Linked DNA regions of Homo sapiens. The protein of the gene in region 1 purifies or fractionates together with the protein of each later gene. This does not show direct contact. Each region holds a gene or a part of one and is shown in the gene's direction. Other genes may lie near its edges. The genes, in order: CHEK2, PPM1G, RAI14, HEATR6, EEF1D, DCAF13 and RBM25.

Region 1 (3,500 bases):
AGCGTAAAAAGGATGAGAATCTGACCCTTTCACTGTTACCAATTATTTTAGAGATCAGGTGATACTGCTCTTATCCAGATTCGAATGAGCATTTATTGAGCTCTGTTGTGTACAAGTGACCTTTGTGCTTAGAGAGAGAGGAGGGGTCTAAATGGACGAGTGGGCTGGGTATGGTGGCTCACACCTGTAATCCCAGCACTTTGGGAGGCCGAGGTGGGCAGATCACCTGAGGTCAGGAGTTTGAGACCAACCTGGCCAACATGGCAAAAAATACAAAAATTTAGCTGGGCATGGTGGTGGGTGTCTGTAATCCCAGCTACTTGGGAGGCTGAGACACGAGAATCACTTGAACCTGGGAGGCAGAAGTTGCAGTGAGCTGAGATCGCACCACTGCACTCCAGCCTGTGCAAAAGGGCCAGACATCATCTCAGAATAGGTGAATGAATGAATGAGTAATCACATGCGCTGCCTTTCCCTGTTTCTCAAGTCTGGCATCACTTTAGAATCTCTTGTTAGGATTTATGACACCCAGGCTTTACCTCAGAAGCTGAGAGTGGCACTCAGGTATAAGCATGTGTTTCCAAGCTCCCCAGGTATTCCATAGCGCAGCCAAGTTTGAGACACTGGGGTCTAAGAACCATGTAGAACTAATTAGAATCCTGAAGTGTCTGTGATAAAGATAATAAGCTTTTTGTAAGATTACAGAGGACATAGGTTAAGTTGGAAAGCCTGAGTGTTGAGATTCCTAGGCTCAGGAATTTTAATTTAAGCAAAATTAAATGTCCTAACTTGCAAAGACATGAATCTGTAAATTCCAGATTAATGGCAGGTGTGAATTGTACAATAGAAACTGATCTAGCCTACGTGTCTTCTTGGACTGGCAGACTATGTTAATCTTTTTATTTTATGGCAAGTTCAACATTATTCCCTTTTGTACTGAATTTTAGATTACTGATTTTGGGCACTCCAAGATTTTGGGAGAGACCTCTCTCATGAGAACCTTATGTGGAACCCCCACCTACTTGGCGCCTGAAGTTCTTGTTTCTGTTGGGACTGCTGGGTATAACCGTGCTGTGGACTGCTGGAGTTTAGGAGTTATTCTTTTTATCTGGTAAGAAATATTTTCATTGCTGCACAGACTGGTAGGAGGTGATTAGATGAAGTCACAAATGTGTCTTGCTCTGTTGTCCAGGCTGGCATGCAGTGGCTTGATCTTGGCTAACTGTAGCCTCTGCCTCCTGGGTCAAGTGATCCTCCCACCTCAGCCTCCCGAGTAGCTGGGACTACAGATGCACACCACCATGCCCAGCTAATTTTTCTATTTTTTGTAGTGATGGGGTTTTGCCATGTTGCCCAGGCTGGTCTCGAACTCCTGGGCTCAAGTGATCCTCCTGCCTCGGCCTCCCAAAGTGCTGGGATTACAAGCCTAAGGCATTGTGCCCAGCCTAGCTCACTTTTTGACCATTGATTTAAAGAAAAATCTGACTTTTCATTATGCTGAAAAAGAAATCTTTATATCTGAATGCCACTGAGAATGCCACTTGATTTCTTTTCCTTTCTCTCTCTACCAATATTAAGCCTTAGTGGGTATCCACCTTTCTCTGAGCATAGGACTCAAGTGTCACTGAAGGATCAGATCACCAGTGGAAAATACAACTTCATTCCTGAAGTCTGGGCAGAAGTCTCAGAGAAAGGTATGAATATGAAAGGGTTAAGAATTTGTGGTATGCTAAAATGTGTATGTGCTGTGGTGGGAGTTTCTTCCCAAATTCCATGGTGTTTTCTCCTGTCAATTCTGTTCTTATTTTCTATTGTTAGTTTCACACCATTTGAGAGGCACTGGAAATTATTAAGAGCATGCACTCAGGTCCTGGGTCTGCTACTACTTAGCTGTGTGGCCTTAGGCAAGTTATTTAACCTCCATCTCCAATTTCTTTCTGTGTAAAGGGACCCTCAATAAACCCTACCTTAAAAGGTTTTTGTGAGGGTTAAGTATCATGTACACAAGTGCCTGGTACCTATTTTAGTGAGCAAAATAAATGCACTTGTAACTTTTTAGTTACAAGGTTTCCTTTGAGTAAGCAAGCATGTAAAAACTAGATGTCATTAGTTACCTTGTATTTTATAATTTATCCTGGCAACTTTAGTTCCCTGAAGAGAAAGTAGAAAATTAAATGTCAAATAACATAACATAGGTGATTGTGTTAAATGTCAGAATATTTAAGGAATAATAATGTTGTAATATACAGGCCAGCGTGCATTTGTTGCTTGCTGGAGTAGCCAAGTTTTATTTCTGACAAGTCTGCAGTTCCAGGGAGCCTCTCCCTCGCTGAGTAACTGTCACCTATCCATCTGTAGATGTCAGAGAGAGTTTGCTGTGCATCCCAAGTATCTTAGAATTGGGTAGAAGTTTAGCTTTAATTAGTCCGACCTTGAGTCTAGCAACAAGAGAGGGAACAGGCAGTGAAGAGGTCGTGACTGACGTCCCAGCAGCAGGAGACAGGGAGTGTCATTATCATTCCTGGTCTTCTCACAGTACTCTGAATACAGAGAGTGAGGAAGATTAGGGGGCCCTGTCTGCTGACTCCGTGATGATCTCAGACCCTCTCTGCTCTTTCTGAATGGTGGCCTGTTAATTCTGGCATACTCTTACTGATAATATATTTATCCTTTTCACTGTGATTTGCCCAATTGTTGCTTTAGCTCTGGACCTTGTCAAGAAGTTGTTGGTAGTGGATCCAAAGGCACGTTTTACGACAGAAGAAGCCTTAAGACACCCGTGGCTTCAGGTGGGTGTGGGACAGTGCCTGCTAGCATAAAATACATGGGAAGCCCTGCTGCCTGAGAGACATGAGACAGAGGACAGAAACATGTTTACTTTGTTGAGTGTTTAATCTAATTGTTTTAGATGTATGGGGGGTATCTTGGAGGATGGGTTACAACCTGTTTTATTTTTTTTTTTGAGACAGGTTCTTGTTCTGTCACCCTGGCTGGAGTGCAGTGGCACGATCTCAGCTCACTGCAACCTCTGGCCCCCGGGTTCAAGTGATTCTCCTGCCTCAGCCTCCCAAGTAGCTGGGATTACAGGTGCATGCTGCCATGCCCAGCTACTTTTTGTATTTTTTGTAGAGATGGGGTTTCGCCGTGCTGGCCAGGCTACAACCTTTTTGATATTACTCATGGCTGTTGGATGTACACGCTCACTTTATGTCCTGTTCTGGTTCCACTTGGCTGCCCCGAGTCTCCTGTTTGGCCTGTGTTCTTTTGAGTGCTTGTTCTGGCTCTACCCCCAGCCATGTCCACTGCTCTTCATAGGTGGGGTGCATTCCAGCCATCTTCAACCTTAAATCAGGGAAGTGGGGGAGGGGGAGGAGGACAGCCTCCCTGGGGAGAATCCAGCTATTTCTCAAGCCCAAGTGACTGGGTATAAAGGGTCCCACTGCTTGTTCATTCAGGTGAGTAAATGTGTCCTTAATGAAGGCTGTCACCTGCACTTTTCA
Region 2 (3,500 bases), on another chromosome or scaffold:
GCTGGCGTAGTGGCTCATGCCTAAATCTCAGCACTTTGGGAGGCTGAGGCGGGAGGATCACCTGAGGTCGGGAGTTTGAGACCAGCCTGGGCAACATGGTGAAACCCCGTGTCTACTAAAAATATAAAAACTAGCCAGTCATGGTGGCACACACCTGTAATCCCGGCTACTTGGGAGGCTGAGGCATGAGAATCACTTGAACCTGGGCTGCGGAGGTTGTAGTAAGCTGAGATCATGCCACTGTACTCCAGCCTGGGTGACAGGGAGACATTCTCTCTCTCAAAAAAAAAAAAAAAAAAAAAAAACAAAACAAACCAACAAAACAAAGTAATCCAGGAACAACAACATGATGAAGGACTGCATGCAGGACTCAGTGATGGATGGTGGAAGACAGCCAGGAAGTTAAGCATGACTCTGGTATTAAGTGTTGTCTGGGAGAGTTAAGATTCCATTTACAGAAATAAGACCTGTAGGGGAAGCTCTTGATTTTTTTTTTTTTGCAGACTGCTGATTTCCTGATTACATGTGTTAAGTTTGAGGTATAGAGAGAAAGAACATCCTGGCCGGGTGCAGTGGCTCACACCCGTAATCCCAGCACTTTGGGAGGCCAAGGTGGGCAGATCACGAGGTCCAGGAGATCGAGACCATCCTGGCCAACATGGTGAAACCCCGTCTCTACTAAAAATACAAAAATTAGCTGGGCGTGGCGGCGCGTGCCTGTTATCCCAGCTACTCAGGAGGCTGAGGCAGGAGAATTGCTTGAACCCGAGAGGCAGAGGTTGTGATGAGCCGAGATCGCGCCACTGCACTCCACCCTGGCAACAGAGCTAGACTCTGTCTCAAAAAAAAAAAAAAGAAAGAAAAAAAGAACATCCTGTAGAAACAGGCAGTCAGAGGTATAGAACTACACAGAATCCAAGAGATCTTTCAAGAAAAGTGACATGCAGCAAGAGAAACTATCAAGGGGGTAAACAACCTATAGAATGGGAGAAAATATTCACAAAGTATACATCCAACAAAAGTCTAATATCCAAAATCTATAAGGAACCTAACAAGCAAAAAGCAAATAACCCCCTTAAAAAGTGGGCAAAGGACATGAACAGATACTTCTCAAAAGACGTACATGTGGCCCACAAACATGAAAAAACGCCCATTTCTAATCATCAGACAAATGCAAATTAGAACCACAAAGAGATACCATCTCACACCAGTCAGAACAGCTTTTGTTAAAATGTCAAAAAATGAGAAACGTTGGTGAGGCTGCAGAGGAAAGCAGACACTTGTACACTGTTGGTGAAGGTGTAAATTAATTTAGCGTAGGCACAGTCAGTTTGGAGATTTCTCAGAGAACTAAGAGTGGAACTACCATTAGACCCAGCAATCTGATGGCTGGATATACGGCCAAAGGAAAATAAATCATTCTGCCAAAAGAACATATGTACCTGTATGTTCATTGTGGCACCATTCACAATAGCAAAAACATTGAATCAACTCATGTGCCCATCAGTGGCGGACTAGAAAAGAAAAGAAAATATGGTACATAGCCATCATGGAATACTATGCACCCATTAAAAATAATGAAATAATGTCTTTGCAACAACATGAATGTAGCTGGAGGGCATTATCCTAAGCAAACTAACACAGAAACAGAAAACCAAATACTGCGTGTTCTCACGCAGTGAGAGTGGGAGCTGAACATCAAGTACACATGGATGTAAAGATGGCAACAATAGACATGGGTCTACTAGAGGTGGTGGTGCGGCAGGGTGGGGGTGGGGGTTGTGTGGCAGAGGAACAGCTGAAAAACTACCTATTTGATACTATACCCAGCACCTGGGAAACGGGTTCAGTCATACCCCAAACCTCAGCATCACACAGTATACCTTTCTAACAAACTTACACATGTATTCTGTGATTCTAAAATAAACATTGAAAAATAAAAAAAAAACTGACATGGTTTGTACTGTTTAATCTGACATAATGGCTAGGGGAAATGAAGTCTGCAGAATGGCTGTTTACGGATGTTGTTGTTGTTGTTGAGATGAGGTCTCACTATGTTGCCCAGGCTTGAACTCCTGGCCTCAAGCAGTCCTCCTGCCTTGACCTCCCAAAATGTTGAGATTACATGCATGAGCCATTGCCAAAACGGCTATTTGGATTGCTGTTAAGGTTATTACATTCTCTGTGTAGTAAGACCTTGAAGGAGAAGGATTTGAGATCAGGAGTTTAAGAAAAAATGTTAATCTAGGAAGAGAGGATAATTTCTGTGTTTGGCCAGTTGCAATGGCTCACGCCTGTAATCCCAGCGTTTTGGGAGGCCGAGCTGGGCAGATCACTTGAGCTCAGGAGTTTGAGAAGAGCCTGGGCAACATGGTGAAGCCCCGTCTCTACTGAAAATACAAAAATTGGCTGGGCGTGGTGGCAGGTGCCCACTGTAATTTCAGCCACTCAGGAGACTGAGGCAGGAGAATTGCTTGAACCTGGAAAGTGGAGGATATGGTGAGCCTAGATCGCGCCACTCTACTCCAGCCTGGGAGACTCCATCTCAAAAAAAAAAGAAAACAAGATGCTGAAATGAAGTAATTACCACAGTCAATGTGATCCTATAACTTTGTTTTGTTTTAGAGATGGGGTCTCCCTCTGTCACCCAGGCTGGAGTGCAGTGGTGCATCATAGCTTTCTGCAGCCTCCACCTCCTGGGCTCAGGTGGTCCTCTTGCCTCAGTGTTCCGAGTAGTTAGGACTGACTGCAGGTGCATGCTGCTATGCCTGGCTAACTTTAAAATTTTTTTGTAGAGGCGGGGTCTTGCTATGTTGCCTAGGCTGGTCTCCAACTCCTGATCTCAATCAGTCCTCCTGCCTACCTTCCCAGAGCGCTGGGATTACAGGTGTGAGCCATCGCACCTAGCCAATCTCATAACATTTTATGACTAGCAAACTTAGTAGTTCTGATTCAGGCATAAATCAGTTGGTGGGGTTATACAAGGTTGGGTGAGTTTTTCTAGATTTCTAAGAGACCATGTTGAAATACTTGGCTCTGTCTCAGTAAGGGATAGAGAGAAGCAAAGGTGTGGGTAAAGGTTATGAGCAGACATGTAAAGGGGGCAAATTAAAGTGTTTAGGGAAGGTGAAACAGTTCCAAATCATAATATAGATCCCAAGCCTCACCAAGAAGTGAAGGAGAGGGTAATTGTGCGATAGTTCTCAGGACTGAGACCTCAAGGTGTAAGACGAATCTTTATTGTGGGTGGTCCTCTTTGAGAAAAAGAACAAAAAAGAAAAATGTGAAATGGGTGCTAAATTTCAGAGCAGAATATACATATATGTGTATGTGTGTGTGTATATATATATATATTTTTATGTAGCAAATTCCAGTTTACAAAGGGCTTTTATGTGTTTTGCATCATTACAACAGTTCTGTGATGATGTGGATGTGGTGGATATTGTAATTCCACATCACAGAGGATAAAATTGAGGCACACCATAAGGTAGCTGACCAGA
Region 3 (3,500 bases), on another chromosome or scaffold:
CGTGATCACTGCTCACTACAGCCTCAATCTCCTGGGCTCAAGCAGTCCTCCTGCCTCATCCTCCAAAGTGGCTGGGACCACAGGCACATGCCACCATGCCTGGCTAATTTTTTTCATTTTTGTAGAGACAGGGTCTTACTATGTTGCTCAGGCTGGCCTTGAACTCTCAGCCTCAAGTGAGCCTTCTACCTCAGCCTTCCACAGTGCATGAGCCACTGTGCCTGGCCTAGTTTTTCACTGTTACACTTTTTCTGCTGAGTGACACTCTATTTCCATTTTCATTTTTATTTTTATTTCTTTTTACTATAACAGTTTGTACAATAAACATCCTGAGATGTTTTCTTGTGCACACATTTTTCTGTTACACACTTATTTAGTTAGTTGCTGGGTAATGAAGTTTAGGTAATATTGCATTTATTATTCATTCTTCAACAAATATTTAGGGTGCTTGTATGGTCTTGGCTATCTGTTGACTAAAAAAGTGAAACTGATTAAATTCTAAGAAGATTACATAGTTGGCTGGATTATTTTTTTCTTTTTTCTTTCTTTGTTTTAATTAAGAAAAGTGGGACTGGTGTAGTGTTGCATGCCTGTAATCCCAGCACTTTGGGAGGCCAAGGCAGGAGGATTGCTTGAACTCAGGAGTTCAAAACTAGCCTGGGAAACATGGTAAAACCTCATCTCTACAAAAAATACAAAAATTAGCTGGGTGTGGTGGTGTGCCTGTGGTCCTAGCTACTCAGGAGGCTGAGGTGGGAGGATTGCTTGAGTCCTGGATGTCAAGGCTGCAGTGAGCCTAGATTACACCACTGCATTGCAGCCTGGGCGACAGAGTGAGACCCTGTCTCAGCTCCCAGCACTTTGGGAGGCCGAGGCAGGTGGATCACCTGAGGTCAGGAGTTCGAGACCAGCCTGACCAACATGGAGAAACCCCGTCTCTACTAAAAATACAAAATTACCCAGGCGTGGTGGCGCATGCCTGTAATCCCAGCTACTCGGGAGGCTAAGGCAGATGAATCGCTTGAACCTGGGAGGTGGAGGTTGCAGTGAGCCGAGATCCCACCGGCCATTGTACTCCAGCCTGGGCAACAAGAGTGAAACTCCAACTCAAAGAGAGAAAGAAAAAGAAAAAGTGGCTCTTCATTGTAAAATTGAAGCATGAGACAAATCCATGGTGCTGTTTGGGATTCTTGTGCAGAAACCTTTTCTCAGCTACTCACTGGCCGTGTGACCTTGGATTACTCACCCAACCTCCTCTTCCTCATTTCTTTGGTAAGATTAAGGGGTAGGAGTAAGCATTTACAAAGGCACATTCCTGTTCTAAGAGTCTGTGAAAATGTTGCTGTGTTAGTGACGCATTTTTACCCTAATGGTAACCACTCAGGCTGAAAGGAGTTTAAGGCATTTAAACACATTGGCGTCCTCATTCCTTCAAATTGCTGGGCACATTCTTTTTTTTTTTTTTCCCTAAGTTCATGTCAGACACATGTTACACATGCAATCATCATGCTCGTGAATTCTGCAAAAGGATCACCAGGCGTCTTGCCTCAGAGCCTTTGCATGTGCTCTTCCCACTACCTGGAAAGCACTTCTCTTAGACGTCTACATGGCTGTGTCATCCCTTCAGGTGTTATGTTGAGACACCTCCTTCCAGTCCAGCCTGCAACCTCATCCCTGCTTTATTTACCTCCAAGGCACTTACCACCTTCTAGCTTGCCGTGTATAGGTTGAGTATTCTTTATTCCAGAATGCTTGGGACCAGAAGTGTTTCAGATTTTGGATATTTTTAAAATTTTTGGAGTATTTGTATTACATGGTTGAACATTCCTGATCCAAAAATTTGAAGTGCTCCGGTGGGTCTTTCCTTTGGTGTCGTGTAGGTGCTCAAAGAGTTTTGGACTTTGGAGCATTTCAGATTCAGATTCAGATTCCTGGTTTAGGGATACTCAATCTATAATTTATATCAGTATTCTGTACTAGATTATGAGCTCTACAAAGGCATGGGGTTTGCCACTCTTGTTTACTGTTGTATTCATGGTGTCTAGAACAATGTTGACCCCTAGCAGGTAAACAGATGTTTGATGAACAAATGGATATGCTTTTTGTTGTTATTTTTTCTCTGTGGAATTTCGCCTTTAACACTTACTGGATATCCTAAATGGTGCTGGTATGTGCACCATATCTCATATTTACAGATTCCTTCAGGGTAAGAAAACTTATGTCTTCTAGGGAAACCACTCCTTTTAAATCTATGTGATTTATCCTATAAGCCACTTAATGTCTTCAGACTTTTTTTCTCCCAACATTTTGCCTAATCCTGAATTTAGAGGAAAACATAAGTAACACGGTGCTTGGAAGCACACCCATCTTTCCTTTTGTGATAACCTGGTTTCCAATGCGATGAATGTGGAAGATGCATAACCAGTAGATGCTGACTGTATTCCACACGACATCTGCAGTAACAGGCCAGCAGCCATCCCAAGCAACATGAAGCACACTGCATTTCTTTCTTTTTTCTTGAGATGGGATCTTGCTCTGTTCTGGAACTCCTGGGCTCAAGTGATCCTCCCACCTCAGCTTCTCAAATAGTTGTGTCTACAGGCGCGTGCCAACACACCTGCCTAGTTTTTCTTTTACTTTTTACAAAGACAAGGTCTCCTTATGTTTTCCAGGCTGGTCTTGAACTCCTGGGCTCAGAAGGTCCTCCTGCTTCAGCCTCTTGAAGTGCTGGGATTACAGGCATGAGCCACTGCCCCCGGTCCACACTGCGTTTCTAAGAACAAACAGTGTATTTTGTTGGATTGTTGCAGAGTGTACATCATCATTGCCCTGACTTTGTGCTTTTATCTATGAGGATTTTTTTGGAGGGGGAGGAGGGATGTATTTTTCATGATGGAAGGAAAATGAGAACCTTAATCTGAAGATGTTGGAGCAACTAATATGTAGAAAGGTCCCTAGATATACTCTAAGAATTGCCACATCGTACAGTCCTTAATTCATGGCACAAAAAACATTCACTATTATAGCACTAATGCATTGTTTCAGTAGAAGCCAACTGAATTTTTTCTACCTTGCATGATGAGTATAGGAGTTGACAAAACAAAGCTAAATATATCAGAGGCCTCTTGGATGCATTTTATATGGTGATAGGGAAAAGGAGTCTAGATTTTTTTTCCCAGTGAACTATATTAGGTATACGATACTGATGATATCCTTTAAAACATTACTAGAATACTGAAGTACACCATTTACATTTCTTATTGTATCCTCTGTAATAAAATGATATTGAAAGAAATCAGTATATTATGGATCCAGATAGGGTTAAACTTTAAGCTGAAAATCATAAACATAGAATTATATGATTATTAGTAAAATGTTGCACAATTTAAACAGATTTTTTTTTTTTTTTTTTTTTTTTAGACACAGAGTCTCACTCTGTTGCCCACGCGGGAGTGCAATAGGGTGATCTCGGCTCACTGCAACCTCCGCCTCTCAAGTTC
Region 4 (3,500 bases), on another chromosome or scaffold:
AGCCTTTTTCTGAGTCACCAAAGGCTTTATATTGGGTAGCAGAGGCTCTAAGCGTGTGGCAGGCTGAGGTAGGGAAAGAGGGAGGTTTGGGGATTGGCACCTGGCCACTTACCTAGGATCCTACAGTCAGTCACCACCCTTGTCTTACAGGATGATTGTGAGAATGAAGTGAACACATAAAATGAGTGTCTTGAGCACTAGTGTTTAAGCTTCCTTCCACCCCTCTCCCTCTCACCCCACCTAGTTCTAAGCCTGCATTTGTTTTAGTGACTGTGGATTCTTTCTAGGGACAGCCCCATGGACCTCCCAGGCCTACAATGCCCTGACATCGGTCGTGACATCATGCAAGAACTTCAAAGTGCGCATCAGATCTGCAGCTGCCCTTTCCGTCCCGGGGAAGAGAGAGCAGTACGGGTCTGTTGACCAGTATGCTCGGATCTGGAATGCATTGGTCACCGCTTTACAGAAGAGTGAAGACACCATAGACTTTTTGGAATTCAAGTACTGTGTCAGCCTACGGACCCAAATCTGCCAGGCACTGATTCACCTCTTGAGCTTGGCCAGTGCCTCGGACCTCCCTTGTATGAAAGAAACCCTTGAACTGAGTGGGAATATGGTCCAGTCCTATATTCTACAGTTTTTAAAATCAGGAGCAGAGGGAGATGACACTGGAGCACCCCACAGCCCACAGGAAAGAGACCAGATGGTCAGAATGGCCCTTAAACACATGGGCAGCATCCAGGCACCAACTGGAGACACAGCCAGAAGGGCCATCATGGGCTTTTTAGAAGAGATCCTGGCCGTTTGTTTTGACTCATCTGGATCACAAGGGGCACTCCCAGGGTTAACAAATCAGTGAAGATCCCACCATACTTTCTAGATGTCGAAGGCGGCAGTAGGAAGACCTGAGCTTGAGCATAAGATCTGTGGGATTTCATCTTAGGGGCAGAAACAATCCGTTCACTATTTATTTAGAATGACTTAGCAGCCATTTAAATTTTCACAGAGGGCTCAACCACCTTTGGAGTGACTCCATAGCACTGGCCATGGTCAGGGTTGTTGGAACATCTGACCTGTGCATCCAGGAGCCGAGGAGTCAGGTTGTAATACAGGCCAAGCAGACGGGCTTTGAGGGCATTTAGTCTCAGAAAAAAAAAATGTAGAAGGATTTCGGAATTAGAATTTTGTGTATTGTATCTGTAGTTTTGTAATAAACTAACGAAAAATAGTGTGTCCACAATCTCCTGTTGTTACCAAGTTGTATTTCTAGCAAGCTGCAAGCAGAGCTGCAGTTCAGCCAGTTTGTCCTGGCCCAGCTGCACAGGATGCGAGGATGCTGACAGTGCCTCACAGCCGCACAGGACCGAGGATGCTGACGGTGCCTCACAGCCACACAGGACGCGAGGATGCTGACGGTGCCTCACAGCCACACAGGACGCGAGGATGCTGACAGTGCCTCACAGCCACACAGGACGCGAGGATGCTGACGGTGCCTCACAGCCGCACAGGACCGAGGATGCTGACGGTGCCTCACAGCCACACAGGACGCGAGGATGCTGACGGTGCCTCACAGCCGCACAGGACCGAGGATGCTGACGGTGCCTCACAGCCACACAGGACGCGAGGATGCTGACGGTGCCTCACAGCCACACAGGACGCGAGGATGCTGACGGTGCCTCACAGCCGCACAGGACGCGAGGATGCTGACGGTGCCTCACAGCCACACAGGACGCGAGGATGCTGACAGTGCCTCACAGCCGCACAGGACGCGAGGATGCTGACAGTGCCTCACAGCCGCACAGGACGCGAGGATGCTGACAGTGCCTCACAGCCGCACAGGACGCGAGGATGCTGACGGTGCCTCACAGCCGCACAGGACGCGAGGATGCTGACAGTGCCTCACAGCCGCACAGGACGCGAGGATGCTGACAGTGCCTCACAGCCGCACAGGACGCGAGGATGCTGACAGTGCCTCACAGCCGCACAGGACGCGAGGATGCTGACAGTGCCTCACAGCCGCACAGGACGCGAGGATGCTGACAGTGCCTCACAGCCACACAGGACGCAAGGATGCTGACGGTGCCTCACAGCTGATGAGCTGCTGCTCCGAGCTTCTGGAGTGCCCGTGTTCCCCTGACCACCTTCCCTGCCACACCTCCCCACAATCCAATAACCAGAGTTAACTCCCAGCAAGCAGGGCCTTCTAACCTAGGCTACAACATTGACTTCTACCTACATTTCCTGATGCTCTTTAGGAGAATGTGATCCCACACACTAAATATATGGTTGTTTTGCCACCTTTTAATTTGTGCCTTTAAGAAAAGATCATTTGGTTAGTTGGTTACAAAGAGGGGTTTCCAATTATATTTTGATAATGCCCCACAAGTTATGAAGGTAACTTCTACTGAATATATATATTTAAATTTTGCATTTTTCTACTGAGCACCAACGATTTATTGGAATTGATTTCAATTAGGAATTTAGGGATATATAAGAACCAATTACAGTTGTCCATACTTATCTTTGATGTGGGACAATTAAGAAGTTACAAAAAATGGGTGTTGGTGATATTTTATCATGGTTATTTAGCTTAAAATACACGTGTAAAGGCAGGTGTCTTCCATTTTTCTCCTTTGCCTTTTAGCTGCTGTTTTCCTGCCTCTGACATGTTGGCTGCTCAGAAACTGCTCTCTGGGCAGTGATTGGGGAACAGGGTATTCAAGTTCACTAAAGGCTCAATTTTCCATTGATAGAATATCAGTGTCCACAGAATTAAGACTGCAAGCACAGCAAAGACACCCATATTGAATGTTCCCTTAAATTGCTTTTATTTGGAGACAATTCTGAACATGAAGTGTTATAGAGGGCCCAGGAAACTAAGTTGAGCCCACCTGACCCTGTGATGAATCTTGGAACTTCCGTCTCTTGAATACATTCTTAGTAGTAGCTTCTTGGCATTTTCAAAAAAGGAAAAAAAAAATATGGCATAGACAGCTTATTACTGTGATTCTTTGAGTTTTCTCAGGTGAGTTTTTTGATAAAATATTTGTGAAGTGGCCTCATGGTTTCATTTGATGATTCACTCTTATCCTTTCCTTATCTTGAATAAAATCCCATTCATTTTCTTTTTAAAACTTCAGCTTCTGTAAAGGTTTCCAGATCCTGATGTGGATGTTAATGTTCATGTGCAGGAAAACAATGAAGGCATAGCACCTCTAGAAACTTCAGAAGGCAGTGGTACCTGCTGTGTCCCAACAGTATGCTGATTCTCTTCTCTGCAGCATTGTGGGTGTACATACACTAAAGGACAGAAGCTCCTCATATGCCTGGGCACGTGCCTCCATAAAGCTGCTGTGGGGAAAGGAAGCCACTGACAATAAAGACAACTTAAGCTGATGAAAATCAGCACACAGCTCCACTGGTTCAGATTTCTAATGCAGAATGCCAGATTCTAAATTATCTTTTGACACTTAAAAATTGGGAGGAAGAGTCATCCAGGC
Region 5 (3,500 bases), on another chromosome or scaffold:
GTAGGAGTCTGCCGGGGCTGCTCCCAGGACAGGGACAGGGGAGGCTGTGAGGGCCATGCCGCTGCAGTGGGTCTTGCTGGCTGCCACCTGTGTCACAGGCCCTGTTAGCTGGGTGGAGCCTTCCAGAGCCAGGACCCCAGGGCACTCTCAAACTCTGGGCAGCTGCCAGAGGCTCAGGTGCTTGGCAGACACTGTCTACCCCTCAGGGAAGAGCCTTGGTGGTGAGCCTGGCCTGCTTCCAGGAGCAGAGTAGGGACACTTTGGCCACTTCCCCCTGGGGCCTGGCTCTGGCGTTTCCAAGACTGCTTCTCTGGCAGCCAGCTGTCTCCCTGTGTTCTCTTTAGAAAGCTCCTCCTGAGCTTGGATAAACTGCAGGAGCGAAGGGGCTGACCGTTTGTCGGGACGCAGTTGAAAGAGTCGCTGTGTCCTGCTCCGGGCTCTCCTGCTGGAGAGGAGAGGCTTGCACGTGCCTGTCGTCTGCGCAAGCTTTGAAGCTCAGACTTGGTCTCTGTTAGGAGAGATGGTGCGCTGCGTCCGGCAGGTCCTCCCATGCTTGGGAATGCGGGAAGCGGGGAAATGAGGAGGTGGGCTCGGACGTGTGGGGGGCTGTGCTGGCTGTCCTGGGAGGCTCTCTGCCCGCTGTTAGTGGCCAGCTCCCCAGGTGACGGGCCTGGCCTCCAGGTCTCCAGCATGGCTTACTGTGGTGTCTCCTGAGGGCTTCCTCTCTGCAGGGAAGCCCACCCAAGATCCCTCTTACTGGTCCCATGGGGCAGCTGCCTCCGTAGCATCCTCGTCTCCACCAGACCCCTGCAGGGTGCCCAGTTCCTCCCTGCAGGGTGCTCCCTGCTGCAGTGTGGGGTGCACAGAGGTGGGCAGGGCCCTGGGGCCGGAGCTCCCGTTGGTGAAGGAAGACGGATCCCAGCCAGGGCTCTCGGGTTGATCAGCAGTAGGAGGTGGCCCCTCCTGCCCAGTCCCACCCAGGACATGGGCTGGTGGCTGGGCTTTCAGCTGTGCCCAGCTGCCCTTCGCAGAGCTTGCAGGGTTTATGAGGTGGCTCTGGTGAGATTAGGGGCAGGACACCTAGTGTCTCCAGCCGAGGAGTGAACTGGGTGGAGGTCCTGTCCTTGTGTGCACATTGTGGGAGAGTCAGTCTGGGAGGCCTTTGTAGCTTGTGCTGGGGCCCTTGGGTGCCAGCCCTGTCTTGACGGTGGCTCCTGCTGAGAGAGAGGCCCTGTATTAATGTGAGCCCTGGGCTGCCTCCCCCTTGAGGGTCCTTGTCATCTTCCGGGCCTCCTTCAGCAGACCGGACACAGGGGCAGTGCAGGTGAGGGGCTTGGGGGAGCTCCTTGGCAGCTCCAGGGGATGCTTGTGGGCGCTGGCTTATCTTGTCTCAGGCTACCTTGCTCAGGTGACGACAGGGTGGGTGGATTTGGGAAAGGTTGGCTCAGATAGTGGTCCCTGCTTGTCCCCCAGGGCCTGCCTAGGCTCCAACTGACAGTAATCCCAAGAGCTCCCCTTTCAGGGGATGACGGAGTGACGTCACCTGTGTGGACTCAGCTGCCACCTGGGATTGTGGTGGCGGCGGGTCTGTCTGGCGCTCAGCTTCCATCTCCACCAGTGTCACCTCCACACCACCTCGCCAAGCAGCTTCTGGAAAGGCCCCCGGCCGCCCCGGGCTGACCTGCTGCTGTGTCTGACCCGGTTAGTCTTTCTGGCTGCCTCTAACCTTGCTGCTTTTCCTTCATGCTGTCCTAGGAGGCCAAAGCAAAGTAAGTACTCGCCTGTCCTCATGCCCCATTCCCCTTCATTTGACCGGGGAACCCCCAGCCCTCGCTGCACCTGAGGGAACCCAGCACCACCTGCGCATGGCCCAGTCTGCCCAGAGGGCCTCAGTTTCCCATCTGGAAAGTGGAGGAATTGGGTTTTCTGGATGGGGCAGCAGCAGGTGGGCACCCTGTGTGGCCGTGAGCAGGGTCCTGTCCTGGGCTGGCGGGTCAGCAGCTGACATGCGGCTCCCTGCAGGGAACAGGTGGCAGTGCCAGGTCTCGGTAGGAGCCTTGAAGTGGCTTCCCCTCCCTGAGCGGCGGCTTCTGCCCGGAGCCCCCAAGAACATAGTCTGAGGCCACTTTGGCCAATAAAGTCTGGTAGGGCATCAACACTGGGGGCCAGCTCAGTGGCACTGCTGATGGGACCTGCACGGCTCCATGGGAGCAGAGAGACTGGTGGGGGTACCACCGCACGATGTCACAATGCCCTGTCTCCTGGGCTCTTGCTCCCACCCCACCCCCAACCCACAACCCCTGCCTCTGCCCATCAGCCTGGCCTTGGTAAGTGCTGCCCCAGCCTGGGGAAGGAATGAGCAGGGGAGCCTAGGGAGCGTCTTCATGGGCCCTGTGGCCTCCCATGGGCCCCGGTTCCTCGTTGGTGCCATTAGAACTTGTTGCTGGGACTGCGGGATTCGGGCCACATGCCCGCAAAGAACTCCATGTTCCACTTAGAGGCTGCAGAGTGCAGTGCCAGGGGTGCCTTCCCAAAAGTCCTCCCTGCCTGGGTGGAGCGTAGACAGCTCAGCACCCCACGGGGGGCGTTGGAGCCAGCCTTGGTTTTGTTGGGTAAGGATGTTAGAAGAGGGGCGAAGACCCATAGCCACTGGTGTGAAGGGTCTGCTCTTGACCGAAGGCTGCCTCCCTCTGGGTGCAGACCAGGCAGGTGGTCCCAGTCACGGTGCCCTGGGGCCACTGGGTCTGTCTGCCCTCAGGCTCCACTAGACACACCTGCGGAGGCAGCAGACTAGCAGCGGTGTCTGTGAGGGGCAGCTGCACAGCCCCCTCTTGAGGGTGCTCCTAGGCGTTGGTTAGGCCCAGGCGTTTCTGCTTTTGGGGAGCAGAGCCTGGAGTCGGGCATGGCTGGGGAGGAAGCTATCGCAGGCTGAGCGCGGGCTGGGGTGCTGACCTGCATCCCAAGAGCAGATTTGCCCCTGGCCTTCTGGGCCTGTCCTTTCTGTAACACCACACTGGACACCTGGGAGCAGAGCGTGCCCCCGGCAGGATCCCACATGGCTGCTGGAGCACTGGGGCAGCAGGTGACTGAGGTCGCCCAGAGCTTGAGGGAACACCTCATCCAGGGAGGAGGCTGAGGCTCCCAGGCCACAGTAGCAAGTGGGGAGTGGAGCCTCACAACCTGCCTCCCACCAAGATGGTCCCTCTTAACATTACACAGAAGCAAAACCTTAGAGGGGGCCCTGATGTCCTGGGACTGTGAGAGCCCCATGATTCCCCTTTAGCTTGGATGGACCCAAAGGTATGGACTCCAGCTGGGAGGCGGGGGCAGCTGATAGAGAGCCTAGAGCCGTCTCAGTGCTCCAGGCGCTTGGCCCCTCCTTTCTACACAGTGGTCACCAGCATCCTCCCTGGCGTCTCCTTCATGAGTGGGCACTCCACCCTCTGCCCGGCCACCTGGCCCCCTCCTGGGGAGGACAGTCAGGCCCACAAAGAAGCTCC
Region 6 (3,500 bases), on another chromosome or scaffold:
TGAACATCATCAGAGTGCACTTAAACAAAACTAGATGGTATAACGTGTTGCACACCTAGGCTGTGTGGTCATATGATATGGCCTGTTGCTTCTAGACTACGAATCTGTTCAGCATGTTACTGTGCTGAATACTGTGGGCAATTGTAACACAGTGGTATTTGTTTATGTAAACATATATAAACACAGGAAAAGTACAGTAAAAATCCAGTATTATCTTAATGGACCACTGTCGTATATGCAGTCTCTCATTGACCAAAATGTCATATGACTATTTTTGTTTCATTTTTCTTTGTCCTGATTATTATTTATCTTTTCTGAGAGGGTACCTGAGTTTAATAAAGTTTTTTGCTCCAATACAGTTTAAGAAAAATTAGTAATAATACTTTACATTTGTTATTTTTTACTTAGTCAAATCCAACTCTGTATGCCAAACCAAAAATTAAAAAAGAAATAAAAGTAAGTTTAAATTGTCAAGACCGTTCTCCCTCTATTTCACTTTAGTAGGTATATGGCTTGGTTGATGAGAGGTTGAGAGGTGGGAGATTTGAATACTCAGCTGTCCCATAGTCTCGTGTGTGTCTCATTTTGTAAGCACATAGAGTGTGATTCTAATATTTAAGATTTTTATTGTGTTTTGTATAGTTTGGCCCTTTACTACATATTATATGTTATTAAATACAGTATCTATTTATACATCTATTATATCTTATTTTTGTAAAGAGGTAGTTTACAGAAAGTGATGGCATTTTAAGGAGTTTGCAAGGGGAATTTTGTTCTCGAGTTTTCACTTTACAGACTGACTTTAAAAACTAAGTCCTGTATAGATACAGCCCCCTGTATAGTGAATTATGGTTTACAAAGAGCTGTTATACACATTCCCATTGTTCCTTAGTAATGCTTTAGATGTGTTCCTGGAAGCATCCATAAAATAAATCCAAATAAATGGAAATAATTTTTCTCAAAAAATTATGATAATTGGATGATCATGGTCATAGTCAATCTGCTTATCTAACTCTTTGCTCTTTTACTTGTGATATTTAAGTCTTTTTCCACTGTAATTTGAGGAAGCCATATGGATTTCTACACCATGTATCGTCATTGTCAGCAGATAATTATCTTCATCACTGTTTATCTGATTATGAAGGTGCTTCAGTTAGAAGCATACTGACAGGAGTGTTCTGATGACTTTGATCTTCATTTCATCATTTCTGTTGTAGAGCTTCTGCTGTGTGTTCCTATGTGACTATTGCTTCCTTTGTTGCTGCCTTGATATTCTCCAAATTGTCATGAGTGTTTTTTTGGCATTATTCACTTAGGCCCAAGGCAAGACTAATAGCTTCCATATTTCTCTCACCTCTGGAAAATGTTGAGAATCAAGAGAATATGGTCCTCCATCATTTCTTGGCACCACAACTTCCAAAGGTAGTAGGATAGTATTTTTCCAACATGGTACATAAGTAGACAAAAGAATGAAACGAGAACAAAGAAAAAAACAGGACTGTGTAGTTACCTATGATCCCAAGGGGCCAGCAGCTGAGTTCAGGCTGAATTATTCCAAAGCTAGTGTGGACAGCTAAATGTAGGTCTAGCTAGAAAACTCACATTATTCCAAAATTGTATAAAAGGGTTCTTATATTTCATTTCTAAGAAATTGTCTCCTGATGTCATTTGGAGGTTTTGTAATCACAGTCTTAATATGTGTTAACGTCCTGTTGTGTTTAGATATAAATGGTGTTCCCTCTGACCTTTGCCTTTATCTGCTTGAAAGCTAGTTCTAATTTGTTTCTGTGGTTTGTTTCCTATCATTATAAACATCAAATAACTCATGCTTGGGTGAATAATCTGTATTTAAAAAATATTTTCCTTTAAAAGACCTTAAAATGGCTAAAGCATATTATTTTTAAAATAAATTTTGAGTAAATTTTTTAAAACTACAGTTAAGTCAGTATTTGAAAGTAGGCTTCTGTTGGAAGTTCATTCAGTATTTACTGAGCAAACAAGTAAATTAATAGTGTTCACATGGAAAAATTAGTGTGACTGTGTATATAAAGAATTTAAGCCTTTAAAAATGTATTTATCTCCTAATAGTAGAACTTTTGGTGAGCTTAATAAACTTAGCATATATGCAGACATAAACATATCTAGAAGTTAAGAACTCAGCATAGTTTACCATTGGGGAGGATTCTCAGTTACTTAAGTGACTAACCGTTGGATCTGACTGGTCTACTGCATGAACAGATTATGTTTAATGGTTACGGAAACCTGATTGAATTTCCCTACTTCAAATGCATTATACTGCTTTGGAAAAAAGGGCTTCTTAGGTATGTGGAGATTATAAGAAATGAGTCTTCAAAAGCAGAGCACTGAGCGGGAGAAGAAAAAGCAGTCTATCTCATCTAGTTTTCATTTTAATAGGACGTTCTTTTTAATCATCCCCTCTCTTTTAAAAATGAATTTCTAATGGTTTATCAAAGTGCTTAAAACATACCTATCAGAAACAGTGTAAAAGACCAGTTTTGTGAGTATAGTCGAGAGATTTTTTTTTTTTTTTTTGAGACAGAGTCTGGCTCTGTCAGCCAGGCTAGAGTGCAGTGATGCCACACGGCTCACTACAGCCCCTGTCTTCTGGGCTCTAGTGATCCTCCTACCTCAGACTCCTGAGCAGCACCACACCTAGCTAATTTTTAAAATTTATCTTTAGTAGCTATGGGGTCTCCCTGTGTTACTCAGGCTGGTCTCAAACTCCTGGGCTCAAGTAATCCTCTCACCAAAGTACTGGGATTATAGGCATGAGCCACTGCACCTTGCCTACTTTAGAGATATTTTTTATAGATATGAATATTTGATTTAGTCATTCTGTTTGAGTTTTATTTTACTGTGCATAGTTTATTGAGCCTGTTTCCTTCCTCTTTATATACTCTGCATTTTGAATAATTTAATCCAGATGCAGAAAATTTATTTCTCCAGAAGTTTCATCTTACTTTTTCTGACCTTGTATTTTACTTGCTTTTTAATGCCTTTCTTAACACTTACTAATATAGTATCACCTGTGAATTCTTCTAGCATATTTCACAGCCTTTCCAAATAGGTATGATATTTGACATCTCCATTTATTAAATGATTCTTTTTTTTCTTTTTTTGAGATGGAGTCTTGCTCTGTTGCCCAGGCTGGAGTGCAGTAGCACGATCTCGGCTCACTGCAAGCTCCGCCTCCTGGGTTCACGCCATTCTGCCTCAGCCTCCCAAGTAGCTGGGACTACAGGCGCCTGCCACCATGCCTGGCTAATTTTTTGCATTTTTAGTAGAGATGGGGTTTCACCTGGTCTCGATCTCCTGACCTCGTGATCCACCTACTGCAGCCTCCCAAAGTGCTGGGATTACAGGTGTGAGCCACCGCACCTGGCTCTATTAAATTATTCTTACCTCAACTTATCAGACACTTCTGTAGTCCTCCCTTCCTTTTCACACATGTAAATCATCAACTCACTTTAATTAAGCTT
Region 7 (3,500 bases), on another chromosome or scaffold:
TCAGACTTAAATTAGATTCAGGGGGCAGCAGGATAACATACACTGTAGTGTATTTCTGGGGGCAGTTATTTAACTTGATCTTAGGAATACCTTTTCTTTAGAGCTGAGATTAAAATTTACATTTTATATTTGTATAGATTTAAGTTGAGTGGGGGAGATTTTAAACAGTAGGTCAGTGGTTACCAGACTTACCAAATTTTAGATGCATGGAAGAACTGTAAATTCCCATAAAGCTAATCTATTCATTGACCCCCACCATTATGATAGAGATCATATGGTGACTAATGCAAGATGAAACTCTCAGCTTGGAAAGTAACAAGGAATAGGATGTAAGTATGAGCTTCTGTTTTTTATTATATTTATGGATGCCCCCTCAGAAAAATATGCAAAGGGGTAACTGGCTTGGAAATGGGTATTTATGCATAGTAAATCCCACTCACGAGTTTTGCCTATTTGAAGCTTCTCTCAATGACAGTGCATCTGTGAATGTTCGCTGGTGTTGAAAATGATGCTTTTGAACGGTGCAATGCAAACACTGCATGAAATGTATTTTGATGGTCGAGATAATAAGGTGTTGCTGGTTCTTACTGATAGACTGAGAGATCTTTAACTCAGTGAAATGTTAAATGTTCATTTTCTCTTTTATTCTTACTTTTTCCCATTGCTTTCAAAATCTGCAGTTCACAAATAATGCCAATGAATCAGTGCTGCTGAACACTTACTATCCAGATGCCCAGCCCTTGCTCACAAACACAATGCTTTTTCAAGAATTAAATGTGTCTAAGAGCACAAACATAATTCTCCCAAAATTAATTTTGAGAGTTGAAAAGGTGGTCTATGGGAAATCATTTTAGATGAATAATTTTGGTTAGGTATAATACTGAAATTCAGGACCGAGTAAGCTTAAAAATGGTATATGGTTGTGTGTGTGGTTTACCCCCTTTTTGTTTTTATTTATTTGTTAAACCCTGTCATGTTATTGGTAAATTATGAGGAAATCATGTTTTAAGAAAAATTCAAAAATATATTTGCTTTAAAGTTTGGGAATCTGTTAGGCATTTTACTGCCTTAGTATTATTTCACTGGAGGGAATGTTTTGAATTTTCAGAATGTCTTTTCAAAATAAAAAGAAATCAAAATGAAAAACCAAAACAGTTGTTTTTTATTGGGTGGTTTGGCTAAAAGGGTTGTTTGAAACTCCAGTAACAAAAAATGAGCTCAGTGAACCTTTGCATGTTTTGGTATGAGTTTATTAAATAACCACAGACTGTCAGGGTATCAGCGTGGCAGGGGGCGTCCATTTACAGCACGGATGAGTCTGAAGAGAGAATAAGGTAAGATTTATGATTTTTTAATCTGTCCTTTCCTCTTCATGACTTTCTTACATAATTTTAGACTCACCTCATTTCCCTTCTCCAGTCTTTCTTTAAAAATATACATGTATGTTTACATGTATACCTGTATTTGTATACATGTGTGTATATATATATATATATATATCTCATATATAAACTTCAGGAAACATTTAGTATGGACTAGATTCACTCACTTTTTCATTTACTTAGAACCAAACTTTTGAAATGAGTTCTGAAACAAATGGTTATTTATATAACTGAATATAAGGAGCACAGTGAAATAAGCAAGAATTAAAAATTGAGGAATTCTACAGGAAAAATTAGTATTGGAACAGCTAAAATATTCTGTAAGTATCTATTTCAGAAATAAACAAATTTCTTTATAAGTGTATGCCATTGAGGTAAGTTTTATATAGTCTAGCCTCATTTTACAATATAAATTTTTATATTCATTGGAACTGTTTCAGAAATGAGATTTTTCCCCCTTTAATAGCTGTTAGTTTCTGTCCTCTTTCTATCATATCTTATTTCATCCCTTTGTAATTTCAATGTATTCAGTTTTGACTTTGCCCGTATTCTACTTCGATATAGACTGGCACAGCAACTGAATATATTGCTCATACATTAGCTTTCCTTTCATAACCTGCTATAAGTTCTCTGATCCATGAGGAAGAGAAAAAGAGTATCTGACAGGTAAGATTGCTTTTTAAAGTTGTTTTAAATGCATTACATGACTGAGAAAAGAAAAATGCACATTTTATTGTTGCAGTTTAAAATTTCATTTTGGTGAAACTAAACGTGAAACAAAAGGGATAAATGTGTTTTGTTTTGTTTTGTTTTACCTGTTTGGGGTATTTTTTTCTGAGTTTGTGTAGAAACCGTGTGGTACACTGGTAATCTTGTCAGGGTACAAACTTGGTCTGACTTTGTTATTTGGTTTATTTGTGAACCATGTACTTGCTCTTCCTCCCAGAAACATAGCTTGTAGGCAAGGTTAATCCAGTGTTGGCGATCCATGTCCTAGCACAGCATCTGTAAGTTAATGCACAATCGTTCCTTCCAAGGATGGATTTATCATTGTAAATATATTTTCATTGTCTTACAGGCATAATGGGCATAAGTATGTTGCTTTTAAATATTTTAAATTAAACTATTACAGTTACATATATTTTGCTTGAAGTGAGTGATTTTCAAACTTTTTGTATTTGGTGGGCTGTCCATCTTGTAATGGTGGGAGTAAATGTTTCCATAGATGATAAGGCAGTTCTTGGCTGAATTCAGCTTGTGTTTCTTTTGGAGGGTGGGCAAATCAGAGGGCAGAGATTATTTAGTTGCATTATAGGTATTCTTCTATACCACTTGCCCTTTGAAACCCTCAACTTGAGGTAATGTGCAGTCTGGGGTTTTAATTAGTATTAATAATCTTGTGGATTTACAGAAATCTATAATGCACAGAGTTGAGTTTTAACCAATGATCGTATTCATAGAAAATATTTCGAACCACCACATTCTTCATGGTCATTTTAGTTAGTACATAGTCATTGAGTGGCCAGCCACACCTGACACAATCTCCCAGCATCCAAGATTGGAGATTCCTGGTCTGTGTAGAGTATATGGTTTTGCACGAAATCTTTCTAGTCTTGTGATTGCTTCAGTTTAATTTGTCACATAAAACCACAAGTATTTAATATTAATGTATCAGTGGTTTGGTGTTTTTGTTCCCAGTACTGGGCTTTGCGCCGGGAAAAATCTGAATACTGGAGCTACAGAGTTAACTCTAAAAGTGCTTTTATTGGTTTCTAGAAACTGGAAGAAGAGAAAGGCAAAAAGGAAAAAGAAAGACAGGAAATTGAGAAAGAACGGAGAGAAAGAGAGAGGGAGCGTGAAAGGGAACGAGAAAGGCGAGAACGGGAACGAGAAAGGGAAAGAGAACGTGAACGAGAAAAGGAGAAAGAACGGGAGCGGGAACGAGAACGGGATAGGGACCGTGACCGGACAAAAGAGAGAGACCGAGATCGGGATCGAGAGAGAGATCGTGACCGGGATAGAGAAAGGAGCTCAGATCGTAATAAGGATCGCAGTCGATCAAGGTAAGGCTTTACAGAAGTTACTGTTTCCTGATAGCTTTAAGAAAACTATCGGGTA

The links.
Region 2: the proteins of CHEK2 (region 1) and PPM1G purify together in Homo sapiens (affinity purification with mass spectrometry; 2 studies listed by BioGRID and IntAct, with this or other methods). This does not show direct contact.
Region 3: the proteins of CHEK2 (region 1) and RAI14 purify together in Homo sapiens (affinity purification with mass spectrometry; one study listed by BioGRID and IntAct). This does not show direct contact.
Region 4: the proteins of CHEK2 (region 1) and HEATR6 purify together in Homo sapiens (affinity purification with mass spectrometry; one study listed by BioGRID and IntAct). This does not show direct contact.
Region 5: the proteins of CHEK2 (region 1) and EEF1D purify together in Homo sapiens (co-purification; one study listed by BioGRID and IntAct). This does not show direct contact.
Region 6: the proteins of CHEK2 (region 1) and DCAF13 purify together in Homo sapiens (affinity purification with mass spectrometry; one study listed by BioGRID and IntAct). This does not show direct contact.
Region 7: the proteins of CHEK2 (region 1) and RBM25 purify together in Homo sapiens (co-purification; one study listed by BioGRID and IntAct). This does not show direct contact.

The regions. Positions count from the first base shown.
Region 1 is NC_000022.11:28,693,321-28,696,820, reverse strand, and holds part of CHEK2 (serine/threonine-protein kinase Chk2), read left to right. Parts: intron 1-947; coding exon 948-1,111; intron 1,112-1,578; coding exon 1,579-1,694; intron 1,695-2,703; coding exon 2,704-2,789; intron 2,790-3,500. UniProt on the Homo sapiens protein: Serine/threonine-protein kinase which is required for checkpoint-mediated cell cycle arrest, activation of DNA repair and apoptosis in response to the presence of DNA double-strand breaks.
Region 2 is NC_000002.12:27,389,092-27,392,591, reverse strand, and holds part of PPM1G (protein phosphatase 1G), read left to right. Parts: intron 1-3,500.
Region 3 is NC_000005.10:34,659,328-34,662,827, forward strand, and holds part of RAI14 (ankycorbin), read left to right. Parts: intron 1-3,500. UniProt on the Homo sapiens protein: Plays a role in actin regulation at the ectoplasmic specialization, a type of cell junction specific to testis. Important for establishment of sperm polarity and normal spermatid adhesion.
Region 4 is NC_000017.11:60,040,922-60,044,421, reverse strand, and holds the end of HEATR6 (HEAT repeat-containing protein 6), read left to right. Parts: intron 1-287; coding exon 288-859; 3' UTR 860-3,414; downstream 3,415-3,500. UniProt on the Homo sapiens protein: Amplification-dependent oncogene.
Region 5 is NC_000008.11:143,590,916-143,594,415, reverse strand, and holds part of EEF1D (elongation factor 1-delta), read left to right. Parts: exon of another isoform or gene 1-520; coding exon of another isoform or gene 521-523; exon of another isoform or gene 524-1,755; 5' UTR 1,756-1,769; exon of another isoform or gene 1,770-2,204; coding exon of another isoform or gene 2,205-2,327; exon of another isoform or gene 2,328-3,500.
Region 6 is NC_000008.11:103,435,886-103,439,385, forward strand, and holds part of DCAF13 (DDB1- and CUL4-associated factor 13), read left to right. Parts: intron 1-3,500. UniProt on the Homo sapiens protein: Part of the small subunit (SSU) processome, first precursor of the small eukaryotic ribosomal subunit.
Region 7 is NC_000014.9:73,100,034-73,103,533, forward strand, and holds part of RBM25 (RNA-binding protein 25), read left to right. Parts: intron 1-3,158; coding exon 3,159-3,445; intron 3,446-3,500. UniProt on the Homo sapiens protein: RNA-binding protein that acts as a regulator of alternative pre-mRNA splicing. Involved in apoptotic cell death through the regulation of the apoptotic factor BCL2L1 isoform expression.